Regions from separate parts of the Homo sapiens genome. Here region 2 is reported to be linked to region 1. Evidence: microRNA targets listed by miRTarBase, many of them from high-throughput screens and not tested one by one. Region 1 holds a microRNA gene; the other region holds the end of a gene's coding sequence.

Region 1 (4,523 bases):
CCTGGACACTGCACCTAGGATTCAGGGTTTCATTCTGAAGGCAATGATGACTCACTGGAGGGTTTTAAATATGGAAATATGGAATTCAGTGGTTTGAGGGGCACAGCGGCCCCAGTGGAAGTGTGGTAGGTGTGAGTAGCAGTGGAGGGAGTGTTGCATTGAAGCATGACAGAGCTCCTACAGGGAACCTCAACAGGTGGAAGAGGAATGGTGGGCCTAGGTCAAGTGGAGTGGCACCGAGTGAGCAGCTTCTTGTGTGTATACCTGGTTTATGCTTCAGGAGTGAAAAAAGTTCACCACCCAATACTGAGGTTTGAGTTCTTTAACTAAACTCCAAAGACAACAGGTGTTTTATACATGGATTCCCCTGCCCCATTTATGGGTGGGGAGAGGGCAAATGGAACGTTAGGTTAACTAGTTTAAAGAGTCAAGGCAATCCCACCTGGATCCCTTCTTAAAAAGGAAGCCTGTGTCCAAGAGTCCCTTCTGCTGAGTTAACAAGACCCCTTCAACCCGTTCTCATCTTTGGGATTGAGGCGCCTGCAGAATTACAAGAGAGGATTTGTCCTCCTCTTCTCCAGAGAGCTACCTTGATTTTCCCCACCCCTGCCAAGATAGACATTCATGAATGCAGTCATCCACACCTCCACAAGTGCACACACACCAGCCATCCTATTTTAAAACAGACAAAAGCAAAACCAACCCAGGATGTCTCTGGACACCATAAACCAAAATAGTCGCTGGAAAAAACAGTGATGGTAGGTTCCAGATTTAAGATTCATAAAATGGTAACATTTCCAAAAATATCTCTGATGAAGACAGTCATATGTTAGTACGTTTTTAATTTTGCCAAGAGAGGCTGCTGTTTTAAAAAAGAGGATCTTTTACATTGCACGAATTTATCTTCATGAAAACCTTACTGCGTTGTCCTTATTTTTCTTATTCGCGGTTGTCCCACAAACATTTCATCAAGAAGCACCAGTTTCCTTTCTGTACCCTCAAGCCACAGGAGGTAGTTCCTTGGTTCCCTCCTGGGGTAGAAAGAAGGGCAGCAAAAAGAGCACTGTGCTAAGCTGGCCCTTCCCTCTCCACCCCAGGTCTCAAGAGTGCATGCCAGCTTCCTCCCCCGACCTCCAACGCACTTTGGATTCAGACTTTGTGTCTTGCTTCTTAGGACTTCTGATCAGCCTGCATGGATCCTGCTTGACTGGCCATGACTTTAGAGAGTAGTAGAAGACAGAAAAGTTAATACACCTTCTAATGAATTACCATGTGGGTACTGATCTTTCAAAGATAGTATAGAATAGTTTGTTGTGTGGTCTGTTTTTAAAGTCTGTTAACATGAAGCTACAGAAATTTGGAACAGACCCTTTAGAGATAATTTAGTCCAACCTCATCATTTTATAGTAAAAACAACAAAAGCCCACAGGAATTAGCTGGCTTGCCCCAGGTGCTGGGCCTGGCACTCAAGCCTTCCTCCTAATTCCATGGCTCTTCATCATGAACTGATGCTTCTCCCATGCTAAATCCTTGTGCTCTTCTTTGGCCATGAAAAGCCTGTTAACTCTCAGTGCTTTTTTATGTGTAGAAGGTGACAAAGCAGAAGGAAAATGGCAAGAAGAAAGATAACCAAAGAAAAATCAGATAGAAGGCAGGATACCCAGCGTGAGTGCAGCGGCTACACCCATTTTTTGCCATTTATTTCTGATGTCAGACCAGGTGGAAATATCACAAGGTGTCTTCAGATCCTTGTAATCACCTCTTGTTCCCTGGGGGGGAATCTGTGTTGCTCGCCAAGCTAAACTCTTGTGTTCAAGGACAGGGAACACAAGAATTGGGGTGCAGACTCTACATCACAGCCCTGCAGTTATCACGGGCCCATTGAGGGGAGGGGCCCGTGATAACTGCTGGGCTGTGATGTAGAGCCTGTACCCCAGTTCTGGGGTCCTCTCTGTGACAGCATAGTGCCTACTGTGCTGCAAGTGATTCTGAGGCATGGGCACTTGTGAAGCCTTCAGTTTGTGAAGCCTAATTCATGGATCCGGAGGATTGTACATACAACAACAGGAAATAATGAAGATAAAGTTGGACTAAATTATCCCTGAGCCTACAGCAGTGGTTCTCAAAGTATGGTTTCCACATCAGCAGCATCAGTATCACCTGGACCTTGTTAGACATACAAATTCTAGGCCCCCAGACCTACTGGAACAGAAACACCCCCAGGGACCCATGTTTTACTAACTCACCCCTCAGGTAATTCTGGTGCTGCACACTCAAGTTTGAGGAGCACTGGCTTAGGGAAAGCAGCCAGAGGCTTCTGTGGGGCAGAGCAGGGAGCCTGTGATTGGCTTGGTCTGGGCACTTGTGCTAGGACCAAGGGGGTGACGGGCTGAGGGTTCTGCAGAGAAGCAGCGTGGTAAAGGAAGGTCTCTGAGGGCAGCAGCCTGGGAGTGACTTTTAAGCCCACCCCTTAGGAAATTGAGACTCAAGTCATTAAAGCTTTCCTTTTGTTTACACTTGCCTACAATTGTTTTTTCTCAGAGCAAACTTGGCTCAGCACAGCCCAAGGTAAATTATCACAGATTCTGCAACTAATAAAGTTCAATGAGGACTTTACATGGCTCAGATGCTGTTGGTGACTGGCTCTTTCTTCTTTTTTAGTTAGTAACAGGAGTATGGGAAGGCAAATACAACTTCTTCTGTCAGGGCACACGCACCGCAGGAGAATCAGATATGAAGGTACTGTCTCTTTTTCAGAAACTTTATTATTATAAGTGTTGAGTTTTTAAAAATAAATTGTATAAAATACAAAATGGCCCATAACCTCACTGCCCAGGCAATCCCTGTTGATATTTTTAAAAGAATAAAAAAGGCAATATATACACATCAAATTAAAATTTGAATGTGAAAGGTATAAAATAAAACCTAAAGCATCCCCCTCTGTAAAAATAACTCCGGTTAACAATTGGCAGGAAAAATCACATGCAGTCAGTATGTTATATTTACACAATCAGGATCATAAGAGCAATGTCTTAAATTTTTAAAATCATTCATCCAAGTACTTTTTTCCGAGTAGTGGTGTTAAAAATAAAATCTGACTTCCACTCATGAGGTTTGTTTTAAATCACAGGCCAACAGTCGCAGCTCAGCATGGGCAGTCATCTCCTTAGAGCACTTGTTTGACATGTTTAATTGGGCAGAGACCTGACACTGCAGGTTCTGATTCCTTTTCTTCTGTGTCACTTATCAGGTCGGCTGCTCCATGTTAGTCCCTGAAATCAATAGCGTTTTTCAGATGGTTTTCCTTTGCTAATGGCTGTGCAGGCTGCTTCCAGAGGGAATAGGCAGACTTCAAGGTTTTGAACCTTGAGCCTCATGTTTTTGTTAGTCTCAAAGAGTGTCAGGGACCCTTTCAAAAATATTCCCTGTAGTCATTTCAAACCCCTCCAGCTGTCCCAACCCAATCATGTTCTTTGGTTAAAGGTACTTGGAGAGTGACCATAGCTCCCAGCCACTGATGGACATTAAGAGCTCTTGGGGCACTCGGGCTTCTCCGAGTTGACATCAGATTTTTGGATATTAGTGAAACATGTCAGAGGTGATATTCCAGAGAAGCCGTGAGGATAAGCCTTAAATCTTTGACCCTTTCCTCTTAGATTATCCGTGTCCTCTGGTGGTACTACTTCTCCAAACTCATAGAATTTATGGACACTTTCTTCTTCATCCTGCGCAAGAACAACCACCAGATCACGGTCCTGCACGTCTACCACCATGCCTCGATGCTGAACATCTGGTGGTTTGTGATGAACTGGGTCCCCTGCGGCCACTGTAAGTATTAGAGACGGGGACTTGGGGAACAGGTGTGAGCAGGGAGGAGAGTTGAAACTAAGGCTTTCAGAAAAGGTGCTGTTTCTGTAAATGTCTAGGTCAGGCTTTCAGCTTTGTGTTCAAGTTGCTTTTAATGATAGTTTATGTACCTATGCACACAAAACCCTTTTTTAGTTAAGTGAACTTTCTGTGCTGATTGGGTGAGATGAGGGAGATACCACTGGGGACATATTAAGGAATAGGTACAATATTCTCTGACTTAGAGGGCAACTTTCCAGGTTCTTTCTGGTCCTTCTGTATGGTGTGGAAGGTTTGAGACGGGCAGGTGAGGAAAATAGGATCACACTGTTGCATGAGTACCAGGGAGCAAGGCTCATTTTGAAATACAGCTTTAGCTGTCATGCATTAGGAAGTCTCCACATGTTCTAACAACCCTCATATTCCCTGAAGCATGGTGATCAAGGTGTCTTCTATAACGAGCACCAAAACTTGATATAAATTTTCTAAGGTTGTACTTGGTTTTTGGAAAGCTTGTAGTCCAAAGTTTCTTATAATTTTCAGAGATTGCCACCTTCAGATTCAGCCTGGGAGTTTTAGCAAATGTCTCAGTCAAAAGTCCCGTCATCCAAACACTGAAGAATTTAACTGAGAACCTATGGGTCTATTTATGGATATTTTTTTCTCTGGGATAGCAC
Region 2 (4,000 bases), not on the chromosome of region 1:
GGAGGGGTGCCAGCCTCTTTTAAGCAATTGTAGAATAAGAACTCACTCATTATGGCGGGCAGGCACCAAGCCATTCATGAAGGATCTACCGCCATGACCCAAACACCTCCCACTAGGCCCCACCTCCAACATCGGGGGCCACATTTCCTCCTGAGATTTGGAGGGGACAAATATCCAAACTCTATTAGTGACCATTGGCCAAAGCTACAAAGTGGGTCTCTTTCCTTCCCCAATGCTGCCTCCTGGAGATTCAGGACTGGAGCTGAGCATCTAGACCCTGAGTAAGACTGGAGGCTAGAAGCTGGAGCTTGGGAAGCCTGCCTCTTACTGGCTGTGTGCACACAGTGGGAGCTGGCTTGCCAGGGGTGGGCATCAGCGGATGCTGATGGGCACTTTGCAGATCTCAGCTCTGGCCCTGGCCTTAGGTTCTTTGCACTGCTCCACCTCCTGGTGCAAGTCCCCTCCACTCAGCTGCCACAGAGGAGCTCTGGCAACAGCACTGCTCATCTTAGTCCCAAAGGCACAAAGGGTCCACACTCTCTACCTCAGACCCTGCTTCAACATCGAGGCCTTTCCTTTGGTGGTCAAGGGTGAGACCACCCTGTCCCCCGACCCTGCATCACCCACACTAAGCCATCCTCTCCCAAGGATTCCATGACATCATTGGCCCAAATTGTGGGTGCTGCCACCGTCTTCCAAGAAGGTGAACCCATCCCCCTCTTTCCATCCTCCTCCCTTTCCTCTCTCTTCCCTCCATCTTCCCTCATTGGTAGGATTGTCAGATAAAATATAAGATGCATAGGTCAATTTTAATTTTAGATAAACAATGGATACATTTTAAGTATGTCTTTTTTTTTTTTTTTTTTTTTTTTAGATGGAGTCTTGCTCTGTTGCTCAGGCTGGAGTGCAGTGGTGTGATCTCAGCCCACTGCAATCTCCACCTCCTGGATTCAAGAGATTCTCATGCCTCAGCCTTCTGAGGAGCTGAGATTACAGGTATGTGCTACCTCCCCAGGCTAAATTTTGTATTTTTAGTAGAGACGGGGTTTCACCACATTGGCCAAGCTGGTCTCGAACTCCTGACGTCAAGTGATCCGCCTGCCTTGGCCTCCTAAAGTGTTGGGATTATAGGCATGAGCCACTGCACCTGGCCATGCTTTTTTTTTTTTTTCCTTTCTAAATCTGACAACCCTCATTTTCTCTTCTCTTCCTTCCTTTTTCCTTTCTCCTTCCTCCTCCCTCCTCCTTCCCTGCCAGCTCAGGAAGAAGGCAGTCTTGTCCCATTCTGACAAATTGTTATAGAAGAGTGGTGGGGGTGAAGAGGTGACGGGGTAAGGGGCAGCCTTAGCTCCAGGACTATTTCTGTCACCTGTAGGCTGAAGATACAAGGCCAGTGCCTTTGGGAGCTCAGTTTCCCATCTATAAAGCAGATATCAGATTTTGCACCCATAAGTGCATGTGGGAAAGTGCTTGCTGCTGCTGAATATTTGCTTGACTAGCCTGAGTCAGACCTCATAGCCTGCCCACGGATGAGCTCAGCCCTCCGTTTGTTTGTTTCCAAGGAGCCTCTCATGGCACCAGCCTTTGGTTCCCATTCATCCCCATTCCCGGGTGTGATCCGGCTCCCCTGGCAAGAGTTGTGTCAGGGACTGGGGCTCAAGCCAGCCTCTTCACGTCCCCGAATCACAGCAGAAAGTTGGGAAGGAAACTCTGGAGTCCTGGCCTTTGCCCTAGTCACCCAGGGTCATGGTGAGCGTCAGGGGGTTGTGCTTCACAGATGCCATGTGAGCAGCGGACAGGATGCTGAGCTGAGGAACACAAGCCCTGCCCCACTCTGCTGTGAATTTCCTTGGACAAGCTGCTTCAGTATTGTGGGTCTCTATGGCCTATCACCTCCTCTACCCACAAACAGGGACTGGAGAGGGTGACATGCAGGACACTTCTACTGGAAGGTCTAGAACAAATAAATCATGCCTTCTCACTGCCTTTGTAAAAGTGGAATCTTAGGAGGTCATATTCTTACTATATTAAATTTTTTTGATAGAGATGTGGTCTTACTATGTTGCCCAGGCTGGTCTAAAACTCCTGGGCTCAAGCGATCCGCCCATCTCAGCCTCCCCAAGGGCTGGGATTATAGGCAGGAGGCGGTATTACAAGGCAACTGAGAGCAATGTCATTGGAGTAAACAAAGCAAAAACAGGCCAGGCATGGTGGCTGAGGCCTGTTATCCCAGCACTTTGGGAGGCTGATGGGGGGTAAATCACTTGAGGCCAGGAGCTTGAGACAACATGGGGAAACCCCATCTCTACAAAAAAATACAAAAAAATTAGCCAAGTGTGGTGATGCCCACCTGTAGTCCCAGCTACTCAGGAGGCTGAGGTGGGAGAATGGCTTGAGCCCAAGAGGTCAAGACTGCAGTGAGCCATGATTGTACCACTGCACTCCAGCCTGGGTGGGCGACAGAGCGAGACCCTGTCTCAAAAAACAAACAAACAAACAAATAAACAAACAAACGAACACCCCCTGCCCCAGGTCCTGGATCTGCCACCCAAGCTGTAAGATGTTGAGTGAGTAGCTTCACCCCTCTGAGCCTCCATTTCCTTATCCATAAAGGGCCTTGGGGATGGCATGAGAATAAAACATGCTAAACTCACAAAGCTCTTGGCACAGTTTCTGGTACACAGAGAGCACTCGCCAAATGATAGTTGTTTTCTTTATTATGATTATGCCAGATGTGACTGCCTTTGCTTCCAGGAAAGTCCCTAAAACATAAGCTATGTGCAACAAGGGAAGTGGGTTAGGGTGGGAAGCTGAGCGTGCAAGTCAGACAAAGCCTGATGTAGGCAGCTCCTATCAGAGGCATGTGGCCTTTGTGGCTGGGGCCCTCAAAAGACAGCCACTGCCAGAAATCTGGAGACTGAATTGTCTGGGTCTCCAGAAGAGAGTCCAACCCCACCACACATCTGCTCCTGTCCAAGGTGCTGAAATCCACCCCACATAGGCTCCTCCTAATCATGTACAGCTGTTGAGTCACCTGCACCCTACCTTCTGGTCCTCCATTCAATGCCACAAATATACACTGAGCATCTACTATATATAGGGAGTGGAAGTAAAAAGGATTTAGATATGTCTCCAACCCAAGTTGCTCACAGCCATACGGAAGGAATTCAAGCATACACACCTGCCTTAGGGTAGGTGAGGACAAAGGCTAGGGGATTCATTTTGCTATTTATTGAGTTTCATGACACCCACTTCTTGCCTTTACCCTTGCTTTTTCCTCTTCTGCAACCTTGGTACCCTCCAAGGTTGTGCCTCTCATACCTTTCTTGATCTGACCACAGTAGATGAGTTTTCCCCAGGGCATCTCTTTCTGTACTCACTAACGTCACAGAGTCAGGAGGACTAACAATCAATTTCAGGGAGGGAGGGAGTGTAGGATATAAACAGAGAAATCAAAGGGTTAGGAGGTCTCTGAGAAATGAGGGAGCCACCTAGACAGGGGTGAGCTCCTTATCATATTTCTGCATGCCCTCGTCAGGGAGCAGGACCTCCACTGTGAAGCTGACCTTCTTGGCGTGGACAAAGCTATAGGTGTTGTCGAAGCGTAGGACATCTGGGGGACAGATGGAAAGAGGGGCATTGGGCTTGGCTTTACACACTCTTTTTTCCACCCCTGGCCATGGAGGAGGACAGGCTTGTGTTCCCACTGGCTTTGTTTGCCAAGCTGGGCCAAGCTCCCACCACGCCTCTTCCCTTCCCCATGGGAACTGCCAACCCAAGCAGGTCCTGTAAACAGACACCAACCTCCTCTTGGCATGTGCCCAGGCATGGCTTTACTGGCATCGAGAACAATGGTCATTACATCCCATTGTCTCACACCTGGAGACGCACATGACGGGGCTGTGAAGGCACATGGTTGGGTTCATCAGAGACCTCCCAGCCCCCTTGGATGAAGTGGGGTTCTGGGGCAGGCCTGCTGGACACTGTTTGCCTCCTCACA

What was found. The annotated mature microRNA hsa-miR-5685 reads ACAGCCCAGCAGUUAUCACGGG and lies in region 1 at 1,895-1,916, opposite strand. An mRNA with a match to its seed (bases 2 to 7 or 8) in the 3' UTR can be bound and repressed. Matches are read on the target gene's strand: a 7mer-m8 pairs with bases 2 to 8, a 7mer-A1 pairs with bases 2 to 7 and ends in A, and an 8mer does both.
Region 2: the mRNA of SEC14L3 is a reported target of hsa-miR-5685. The part of its 3' UTR that is shown has no 7-base or 8-base seed match.

What each region holds. Positions count from the first base shown.
Region 1 is chr6:53,274,395-53,278,917 of GRCh38, reverse strand. MIR5685 (microRNA 5685) reads right to left here and starts at 1,925; the gene lies at 1,847-1,925. It overlaps ELOVL5 (ELOVL fatty acid elongase 5), which reads left to right. Exons shown (of 8, transcript NM_021814.5): 4 at 2,662-2,739; 5 at 3,657-3,828.
Region 2 is chr22:30,456,530-30,460,529 of GRCh38, forward strand. It overlaps SEC14L3 (SEC14 like lipid binding 3), which reads right to left. Exons shown (of 12, transcript NM_174975.5): 12 at 2,700-3,613. The coding sequence ends at 3,492. Among named protein-coding and RNA genes, the nearest start is that of SEC14L3, 13 kb to the right of the region's middle.